2 separate regions of the Homo sapiens genome follow, and region 2 is linked to region 1. The links come from fine-mapping of genetic effects on gene expression. A gene starts in region 1. The other region holds a variant in brackets. All regions are shown on one strand. Distances are from middle to middle.

Region 1 (5,381 bases):
TGTATAACCATTAATCTTTATTTTTAGATACTTTAACATCATCATTATGAACAAAAGCTGGTGAGGGCTTCCAGAGCTATTAAATTAGATAGGGCTGCCTATTACAAACTGGGATATGTGCTGGTGTACCATAAATTAAACTTAACATATCTTTCTTGAACATTGATCCAACACAACAGTAAGTAATTGAAAATGCTTTGCATATATTTAAAAAACAAAATATAATACCATTGACTCACCAAATATTTACTGAGTGTCTACTTTGTGCTAGATACTGCTCCAGGCCCCTGGAGATGAAGCATTAGGAAAATTAGAGAAAAAAAACAAAACAAAACCAAAACCTGAATTCATGGAGTTTATATTCTAATGGAGGAAGGAAGGCAATAAGCAAATAAATAAACTCTATAGTATGTTAGATGGTGCCAAGTGAAATGAAAGAACAAAACGAAATAGAGAAAAGGTTGTAATTATAAATATGGTAGTCACAGGAAGCCTCAATAAGAAGGTGCCATTTGATTAAAGGTCAAAAAGAAGGAGAAAGCCAGCCACTGGACTATCTGTGGGAAAAGTTTGTGGACAAAACGAAATGTAAATGCAAAGGTTGGAACTGGGCCCACTGGGCAACAGCAAGGACATGGTGAGACTGCAGAGGAGGGAACAGGCAAGTAGCAGATGAGGTCAGAAAGGTAAAGGGGCCAGGTCTTCAAGGGCCTTAGAGTTTTTGTATTGACTTTGTTTATCCTCTGGGTGAGATGTAGATGCTGGAAGTTTTGAGAAAAGAGACATGCTCTGTACTCATGTCTTAGAAGGATACTGGGGCTGCTGGGAATAAAGGATGTTGGAGTAAGGACAGAGAAGCAAGAAAGAAGCATTTAGGAGAGCCTACCAATAAGCCAGGTGGGACGTGCTGCAGGCTGGGACCAGGGTCGTAGCAGAGCAAGTGCAGAAGTCCTAGGATTCTGAGGTGGAGCCAATAGAAAGCTATGGGCTGATGTGGAGAGTGAGAAGACAGCATAACCAAGTTTACCGATATTTACTGAGATAGAGAAGGCTGAGGAAGGAGCAAGTTTGGCCTGGAATATCAGAAGCTCAGTTTGGAGAGGTAGAAAGCAAACTTCAAATGAACGCTCTGCAGGAAAACAGAAGAAATTTGAACTTCCCGATAGCCCTCTTCAAGGACCACTCCAAGAAAGGGAAAAGGCAGATTTTAGTATCCTCTGCTTACCAGGGGCCTTGGGCAGTTACGTTTTTGAAGCACTAATAGCGCCGTTTGTTCCCATTCTAAATGCTCAAAGTGCTTTCTCGCTTTCTCAGGGTTTGCTTTTTTTTTTTTTTTTTTCTTTTGAGACGGAGTCTCCCTCTGTTGCCCAGGCTGGAGTGTAGTGGCACGATCTCGGCTCACTGCAACCTCTGCCTCCTGGGTTCAAGCGATTCTCCTGCCTCAGCCCCCGGAGTAGCTGGCATTACGGGCGCCCGCCACTATGCCAGCTAAATTTTGTATCTTAGTAGAGACAGGGGTTTCACCATGTTGGCCAGGCTGGTCTCGAACTCCTGACCTCAAGCGATCCGCCCGCCTGGGCCTCCCAAAGTGCTGGGATTACAAGCATGAGCCACCGCACCTGGACAGGGTTTGCTTTTATCCCTTTGTCTCCCTCTGGCTTCCAAGCTGACAGGTACACTTTTTTCCCCCATCTGCGAATGTACTCATCTGATCCCATAAGCCGCCTCCACTTTCTAATTCCCTGGAAGCTTGGAGGCCGGAGAAACAAGCGAATTACAATCGTGTGGAGGCTCAGCGAGCTGCTGGCGCCACAGGCATCTGTCAGGTGCTGGCCTGACTTCCTGGTTCTGGGGAAAAGAGACTTCATTTCGCAGTCGGGTTCACGGAATCCAGGGCCTGAGAGGTGAGAAACTTGAGGTCCGACTGCGCCCCAGAACAGCTGGGTGACGTCCCTCCAAGCCTCAGGCTCTTCCTCAGGGCCGACGAACTTCTTGATTACCGGGGACCTACCCAAGTCTTTCTTCTGGAGTAAGCTCTGTCAAAGGAACCCACTTCCTCTCTAACTTTTCTCACGGATGATAAAGAGATTTCCGTTCCGCAGCCGACCCCAGCAACCCTGGGGCAGAGGTGCCGAGGCCTGGAAGCGGACCTCGGACGACGTTTGACCGAGGCATTAAGGCGGGGAATGCCTTACCTGCCCGGGCGCGGGCTGCTGAAGCCGGCGACAGAAGAACCAGCCGAACTAGGAAGCGCCGCGAAGGGGCGGGGCCTGCCGGGTTGGCCCCGCCCCACTTCCCCGATGGGCTTCATCTTGGCGCCTCCAGGCGGCTCCACAAAGTGAGAAACTCCACGTATTGCGTAGGGCGCGTCTTTACGTGGGCGCCTGCCCCTTTAATTACGCCCCTGTCGGAGGCTGAAACACTTAAGGCTTCCGGGCATGCGCACAGCGTTGTGCAAATGAATGCCTTCCACTGAACCGAGGTAGACGGGGTCGAGTTTCTTGCGCGATGGTGGGCTTGTATGTGTGTGTGTGTGTGTGTGTGTGGGGGGGGGGGGTGACGAGGTTGGCATTGAGGATCCATACCCTTTGCGCCCAAAGAAAGGTGACGTGGACTAGTGTCGTGCCTTTGGACAGGCAGAGTAAGAGGAGGGAGAAGAAACAGGTAGAGCTGCTGGCCTTGTCGGGGACACCTTTGGACGTGCTGGAGGGCAACGACGCCCTAGTTTTCTGTGAAGTTAAGTAGCTTCTGCAGGACTGGGTTCAGTATTTCTAGTACCTTCTCAGGATCCCTCCTCCGCCAACGAATTCCTCAACCACGGGCCAAGCAAACTACTCCCCCGCCCACTGTCAGCAGCAGTCTCTGTTGAATGGGAATACTGCACCTTCAGGCTTAACGCCACGTGGGCTCCTTTGCTGTCCTCCAGGTCAGTTCCACTCTTCTACCAGGATGCTGGAATTACATTCTCCCCAAGTTTCCCTACCTGTTTCACTTGCTTAGAATGTCTGTCTTCCTCCTTTTTTCTGGGAGAAAGAAAAGATCATTATTCTTTCAGGGCCAATCCCTACAGCTATGTTCTTGACCATGCTGTTTTGTTTTTGAACTCCTCTAACTGTTACTCCATCGGATACATCTTGCTCATTTCCATCAGAATCATCTTACAATTCCAAAAGCATGTTTTGGAATTGTGTCACTTTTCTACTCAAACACTAACAGTAGCCATCCATTGACCACCCAATAGATTCTAAGTCCTTGTCAGGGCATTCAACATCTTCCATAATCTGGTACTAACTCAGCTACATTTTCCAGCACTGTAGTCTCCCTGCATTCCCATCCCCACTGCTCTGTATCTGGACTGCTTGTTTTTCTTGCACACATTGCATGTTTTGTTTGTACATTACTTGTGAGGTCTCTGCCTCATTTCTATCTCTTGAACTATGGAGGACTTAGATGGCCACTTCTTGCATTATGCCTCTTCTAATTATCTTCCACTTCATTCCTACAGCTCTTATTTTGTACTAGTTATTTCATTTATTTAACAATAGTATTTATTGCAGACCTACCATGTGCTTGACACTGTTCAAAATGTGTGATCATCAGTAGTAAATAAGGCAGACAAGGTTACTCCTCACGTGGAACTAACATTCTCTTTGGAGGAGATATACAATAAATAATAAAGAAAAACTTTACCTAGAACTGCTATGCAGAAAATTAAATAGGGTTTTGTGAAAGAGAATCACTTGCTGGGCACGGTGGCTCACGCCTGTAACCCCAGCACTTTGGGAGGCCGAGGCGGGTGGATCACGAGGTCAGGAGTTCAAGACCACCCTGGCCAATATGGTGAAACCCCATCTCTACTAAAAAAATACAAGAATTAGCCGGGCGTGGTGGCGCGCCCCTGTGGTCCCAGCTACTCGGGAGGCTGAAGTAGGAGAATCGCTCGAACTCGGGAGGCGGAGGTTGCAGTGAGCCGAGATCATGCCACTGCACTCCAGCCTGGACGACAGAGTGAGACTTCGTCTCAAAAAAAAAGAGAATCACTTGCAGGTTCCTGTAGATTATTGGTCAGGAAAAACTTCTCTGAGGAAATGAATCCTAAAAGATGCAGCTATATGATTGGGGAGGGAACAATTTAAACAACAGGAACAGTTAGCACAAAACTATTGAAGAAGGCCAGAGTAGCTGGAGTATAGTGGGTAATGGGGTAAAGGTACAAATGAGTTTGGAGAATAAGCAGGGTCCCTAATCTTAGATGTCCTTGGAAGCCAGGGTGAGTAATTTGGATTTTATTGCAAATGTGACTAGAGGGTTTTAAACTGGATTGTGATATGATTTAATTTACCTTTTAAGACCATTCTGGCTGGTTTGTGGGCTAGTTATAGAAGCAGGAGTTAGGGACCTTCACAATATCTAAAAGTTTTTGGAATGGAAGTATTAAAGTTGGTGTGATAAAGGACATTGGGAGTCATAAGAATCAGATGCTTAAGGTTAATGCAGTTTTTGGAGATGAGAAAGTCAAAGTTATGACCGTGACAGTGGATGACCAAGATGAAGTAGAGGTGTGAGGTTGAGGTTGAGATTGAGGACTTGAGGGTCCAAGACATTGAATGGATGATCCATATAGATGATCATAAAAATCATGTTGGATAAGAAGGTAGTGAGCCAGAGATCAGTGAATGAAGCAGAGTTGTCTGGGGATCCGAGAGAGGATGACAGCAGATGGTAAAGCCCAATGGCAGGCTCTTCAAAAGAATTGGGGTTTTTGGAGGTAGTAGAGGAAGAAATGGCTTGCAACGAACAGTGACAAACATAGACCAATATTTACAGCCTCCAGGTCCTAAGGTAGATGGGTGGGAAAGAAAAAATAGCCTTTACTTGAGAGGACTGAAGAAGAAGCAGCCTGAAGAAATAGCCAGATTTCAATTAGGGCAAGAAAGTGAGGGAACTGTACAGGAAATTAAGTAATTAAGGAAAGTAAGTATATCTTATATATTCCTTAGGAAATTAGGATATGGAGAATTTGTAGTGATTTCTATATGGCATGATGGAAAGGATTGAGAAGGTGTGATTTGCTAAATTGGTTCAGATTAGTAGAATACATTATAGGTATGAGATGATGGTCCAGATGATGATAAGTTACTTGGAGAATGTGGGGGAAACACAGAACTCACTAGTATGGGGCCCCTGGGCAATTTATCTTTCCTGCAGCTCCATATGGTATGGTAGCCATGGGTTTGTGTGAAAAGTGAGAGATCAGAGTACTATTCTCTTGCATAGTGTTTCCAGGAAGCTCTGTAAGGGTTTCTTCTGTCTGATGCCAATGATATAGTTAGAACTTTCCTCTGGCTCAACCTTGAAAGCTTCTATTTGTCCTAATGGGG
Region 2 (5,381 bases), 48 kb after region 1:
CTTGAATAAAAATATTATAAAATGTGTGTGGTAGCCATGGCAATTTTTCACTCAAATACTCCTCCAAGAGTGAGATTGGCAGGCAGCATGCAGTTAGCTACAGGCCTGCGTTTAGTTACCTACATACTTTCAGGATGTGCTGCAGCGTTGACGACAAGGACATGTTCTCTCCTGCAACTCCACCAGTGCTTAGCAGGGCAGGGATATTAAGGCCACATCTGTGCCCAATGTGAGGCTTCTCTAATGCACAGTCTTTGTTCTGGAGCTCCCTGTAAGGTTGGCCATGACTTTTTCAGAGCTGCACTGCAGTCAGAGGATCTTCCTACCCAACCCAACTATCCTTTCCTTCCCCTCCCTCTTCTCAAGTTTCAGACCCATACCATGGTCTGAAGGCTTTTCCTGCCTACTCTTGCTCCTTCTCTTCATTATCTGTCAGTCATTAATCCCCAAAACCTTTTGCATGTCTAATTCCATCTTGGCTTCTGACACAAACTATCAATTTAAAATAAAACTGTGAGGAAAATGAGGCCATATATATGTCATATCATAGCAGAAAGCAAATCTCACTCTATCCTGTATGATACAGGCTCACCTAAAACAAATAGATTCAAAGTGCTCATATATAAAGTCGTGAACAAAGGCAAATATGAACAGAAAGCAAAGGTCATAATGTTAATATCAGTTTAGAATGAATTCAAGTCAAAATCATTAAATAAGACAAAGAAGGATGCTTTATAGTGCTAAAACTTCCAGATTACAAAATTAAAATAAGCTGGAATAGTTATGCATTGAATAAAAGGCGTTTCATCAGTCCAAAAGCAGGTATTATATAAATAGAAGGAAAGATAGAAATATACTACTTTTAGGACTCTTCACTTCCCTCCATCCATGACAGGGTAAGTGGGAAAAAATATGTTTAGATATGAAAGAATTATGTTAATTCATAAGGTAGATATTTTATATATATAAAATGAGCTATATGCATGGAGAATACAGAATAAAACTTGTTTTCATTGCCAATGTAGCAGTCTATGGAAACTGGCCATATATTTACAAACATAAAAAATTAAATCCCATAACATTGAAAGAGTGGAAGCATCTTTCAATCACAATTTTATACAAGTAGAAATGATTAAGGAGTATAGCAAAAACACTATGAGGTCCCATGAGAGCAGGGACATTGTTGGTTTGTGGGTTTTTATCATTGTATCCTCAGCACCTGGCACAGTGCCTGGCACATAGTAGGTACTCAATAATTCTTATGACTGAGTAAATGAAGAATAGAAGACAATTCTATTGATGTAATTCTTTGTGAAGGACTACAACTAAACTTATTCCACGTAGATGAAAGTCTCTCTGGAGGCAGAGAGATGATATGCTCATTGATTGACTCATTTGTTCATTCTACAAATATTTACTTACATGGCAGACACTAGGCTAAGCATGAAGTAAACAGTGATAAGGGGAATAGACATAGTTCCTGACCTCAAAGAACTCACAGCCCGGGAGGTAACTGTTGAAGAACTTAACAATCCTCTACTTCTAATATTTTATGTATGACTGTAATTATACATTTGTAATGGTGCTGTAATAGAAGGTTCTCATGACTATTTTCTTGATTCTCATACAGATGTTGTATCCAATATATAGATAAAGAAACAGATACTTAAAAAGTTATGCTTTGTATTTCATTTAATTTAAGAAATATTTATTGAGTGCCCACTGTATGTCAAATATTTCTCTAGGAGTTGGAGACACAGAAATGAACAAGACAGAGAATGATCCTTCTAGTGAAGATGGTGGGAGGGAGCTGGTAAACAATAAACAAGTAAGTTTAAAAAATCTGGTAAGTATTACAGAATAAACAAACAGATTGACGCAAGTAGAAAGTGACTATAGAGAGGGAATTCAAGGAAGGACTTTCTTAAGGTTGTGACATAGAAACTGAAAAATAAAGAGTTAGGGGAGGGGAGTGGAGCAAGACGGCAGAATAGAAGCTCCACCGATTGTCTCCCCCCAACAAGGACACCAATTTAACAACTACACAAAAAAAGCACCTTCATAAGAACAAAAAATCAGGTGAGCACTCACAGTATCTGGCTTTAACTTCACATAACTGAAAGAGGTACTGAAGAGGTAGGAAAAACAGTCTTCAATCACCAACACCACTCTTTCCCCATTCTCTGATAGTGGTGGCATGGTGCGGAGAGCATTTCTGTGCACTTGAGAAAGGGATTGATTCAGTGCTGCCCTATTATAGCAGAAAACAAAACTGGACCAAATTCAGCTGATGCCCACCCACAGAGAGAGCATTCCAATCAGCCCTAGCCAGAGGGGAATGGCAGATACCAGCGGTCTGAACTTGAGTGCCCACAAACCTTGCCACTGTGAGCTAAAGTGCTCTTGGGACCTAAATAATCATGAAAGGCAATTTGAAAAGATTGAAAGGACTCACCTGAACTCCTAGCTGAGTCCTAATGTGGAACTGGGCCCAGAGCCAGTGGAATGGGGGGACATGTGACCTACTGAGACACTGGC[A/G]GGGGCAACCAAGAGAGTGCTGGCATCACCCCTCCCCTAACCTCAGGCTGCACAGCTCATGGCTTCAAGACTCCTTCCCTCTCCTTAAGGAGAAGAGAGGGAAGAGTGGGGAAGACTATGTCTTGCATGTTGGATACCAGCTCAGCTACAGCAGGATAGGGCACCAGCCAGAGTCGTGAGGCCCCCCTTTCCAGGCCCCAGCTTCTGGATGACATTTCTAGATACATGCTGCACCAGAAGGGAACCTGCTGCTTTGAAGGGAAAGATCTAGTCCTTCAAAGGATTCATCAACTGCTAAGTGAAGAGCCGTTGGGCCCTGAATAACCAGCAGCAATACCCAGGTACTACGTCAGGGGGGTGAGACTCTGAGACTCGCTGGCCTCAGGTGAGACTCAGCACATTCCCAGATGTAGTGGTTACATGATGAAATTCCTCCCCTGGTTACAGCTTGAGAAAAATGGAGGCAAAAGTAAAGGAGACTTTGTCTTGCACCTTATGTACTGGCTTGGCCACAGAAGGTTAGGGCACCAGGTGGGCTCTTGGGTTCCATGACTCCAAGACTTGGCTCTTGGATGACATTTCTGGACCTGCCCTGGGTCAGAAGGGAGCCCACTGTCTTGAAGGGTGAGTCCCAGGCCAGGCAGCATTCACCATAAGCTGACTTATGAGCCCTTGGGCCTTAAGGGAACATCAGTGGTAGTCTGGTAGTACTTCTTGTGGGCCTGTGGTGGTAGTGGCCATGGTGTGAGGCTCCTCTGACTTTGGAAAGGGAGAGAAGAGTGGGAAGGACTGCATCTTGTGATTTGAGTGCCAGCTTAGCCTCAGTACAATAGAATACCTGGTAGACTTCTAAGGTTTTTGACTCTAGTTCCTGGCTCCAAGATGGCAGCTCTGGACTCACCCAGGTCCTGAAAAAGATTGCCATCATGAAAGGATGGACACAGACCTAGATGGCTTTGCCACTTGCTGATTGTAGAGGTTGCAAGCGATAGCCAGGGAGTGGTTACAGCAGGCCTTGGGTGAGACCCAGTGCTGTGCTGGCTTTAGATCCGACCCAGCACAGTTCCGGTATCAGTGCCCACAGGAGAGCTTGTATCACTCCACCCCCAGCTCCAGTTGGCTCAGAACAGAGGAGAGAGAGAGAGAGAGAGAGAGAAAGAGAGAATCTGTTTGTTTGGGAGAAAGTAAGGGAAGAGAATGAGAGTCTCTGCCTGGTAATCCAGGGAAATCTTCTGGACCTTTCCAAGACCATCAAGGCAGTACCTCTGTGAGTCTGCAAAGAAGCACAATATTAAATGGCGTGTGGTGCCCCTTAACACAGATTCAGCTTAGATCACAATACCCACATCATTTCAAACATCTGGAAAGACTTCCCAAGAAGGATGAATATAAACAAGCCCAGAATGAGAAGACTACAATAAATCCCTGACACTTTAATGCTCAGACACAGACAAATATCTACAAGTTTTAAGACCATCCAGGAAAACATGACCTCACCAAATAAACTAAATAAAGAACCAGGGACCAATTCTGGAGAAACAGAGATATTTTACCTTTCAGATAGAGAATTCAAAATAGCTGTGTTGTGGAAACTAAAAGAAATTAAACATAACACAAAAGGGATTCAGAATTCTACCAGAAAAATTTTATCAGACAAATATGATAGATAAATTTTATTAGAACCCGGGACCAATTCTGGAGAAATAGGATATCCGATGTTTCAGCAGAGAATTCAAAATAGCTGTGTTGAGGAAACTCAAAGAAATTCAAGATAACACAGAGAAGGAATTCAGAATTTTATCAGACAAATTTAACAAAGAGATTGAAATAATTAAAAAGAATCAAGCAGAATTCTGGAGCATAAAAATGTAATTGGCGTATTGAAGAATGGATCAGATTCTTTTTAATAGCAGAATTGATCAAGCAGGAGAAAGAATCCATGAGCTCGAAGACAGGATATTTTAAAATACACAGTCAAAGGAGATAAAAGAAAAAAACAATAGGAAGAATGAAGTATGCCTTCAGAATCTGGAAAGTAGACTCAAAAGAGCAAATCTAAGAGTAATTGCTTGTAAAAAGGGGTAGAAAAAGAGATAAGGGCTGAAAGTTTATTCAAAGACATAATAACAGAGATCTTCCCAAACCCAGAGAAAGACATCAATTTCCAAGAACAAGAAGGTTATCAAACACCAGGCAGATTTAACCCAGAGGATACTACCTCAAGGCATTTAATAATCAAACTCCCAAAAGTCAAGAATAAGGAAATAATCCTAAAAGCAGCAAGAGAAAAGAAACAAATAATATACAATGGAGTTCCACTATATCTGGCAGCAGACTCTTCATTGGAAACCTTATAGGCCAGGAGAGAGTGGCATGACACATTTAAAGTACTGGAAGAAAAAAAATTTTAACCCAGAATAGTATATCTGGCAAAAATATCCTTCAAACATGAAGGAGAAATAAAGACTTTCCAAGACAAACAAAAGCTGAGGGATTTCATCAACACCAGACCTGTCCTACAAGAAATGCTGAAGGGAGTACTTCAATGACAAATAAAAGGATGTTAATGAGCATTAAGAAATCCTCTGAAGGTAGAAAACTCACTGGTAATACAAAAGCACGCAGTAAAACACAGAATATAATAACACTGTAACTGTGGTTTGAAAACTACTTTTATCTCAAGTAGAAAGACTAAACAATGAACAAATCAAAAATAATAACTACAACAACTTTTCAAGACACAGGTAGTATGGTAAGCTATAAATAGAAACAACAATAGTTAAAAAGTTGGGGGACAAACTTAAAGAGTAGAGCCTTTAGTAGTTTTCTTTTTCTTGTTTGTT

What was found. PIP is the estimated chance that this variant, and not a neighbour inherited with it, causes the effect. A credible set is the group of variants that fine-mapping cannot tell apart.
Region 2: its variant is the best candidate, but not a certain one, in a credible set for the expression of PUS7L in whole blood (TOPMed, PIP 0.77).

What each region holds. Positions count from the first base shown.
Region 1 is chr12:43,755,831-43,761,211 of GRCh38, reverse strand. It overlaps PUS7L (pseudouridine synthase 7 like), which reads left to right and starts at 2,422. Exons shown (of 9, transcript NM_031292.5): 1 at 2,422-2,482. It overlaps IRAK4 (interleukin 1 receptor associated kinase 4), which reads right to left and starts at 2,261. Exons shown (of 12, transcript NM_016123.4): 1 at 2,196-2,261. RefSeq lists enhancers at 1,555-1,614, 2,235-2,344, 2,685-2,734.
Region 2 is chr12:43,707,635-43,713,015 of GRCh38, reverse strand. No RefSeq gene overlaps it. Among named protein-coding and RNA genes, the nearest start is that of PUS7L, 48 kb to the left of the region's middle. The variant A/G (reference allele first, on the strand shown) is at 2,539.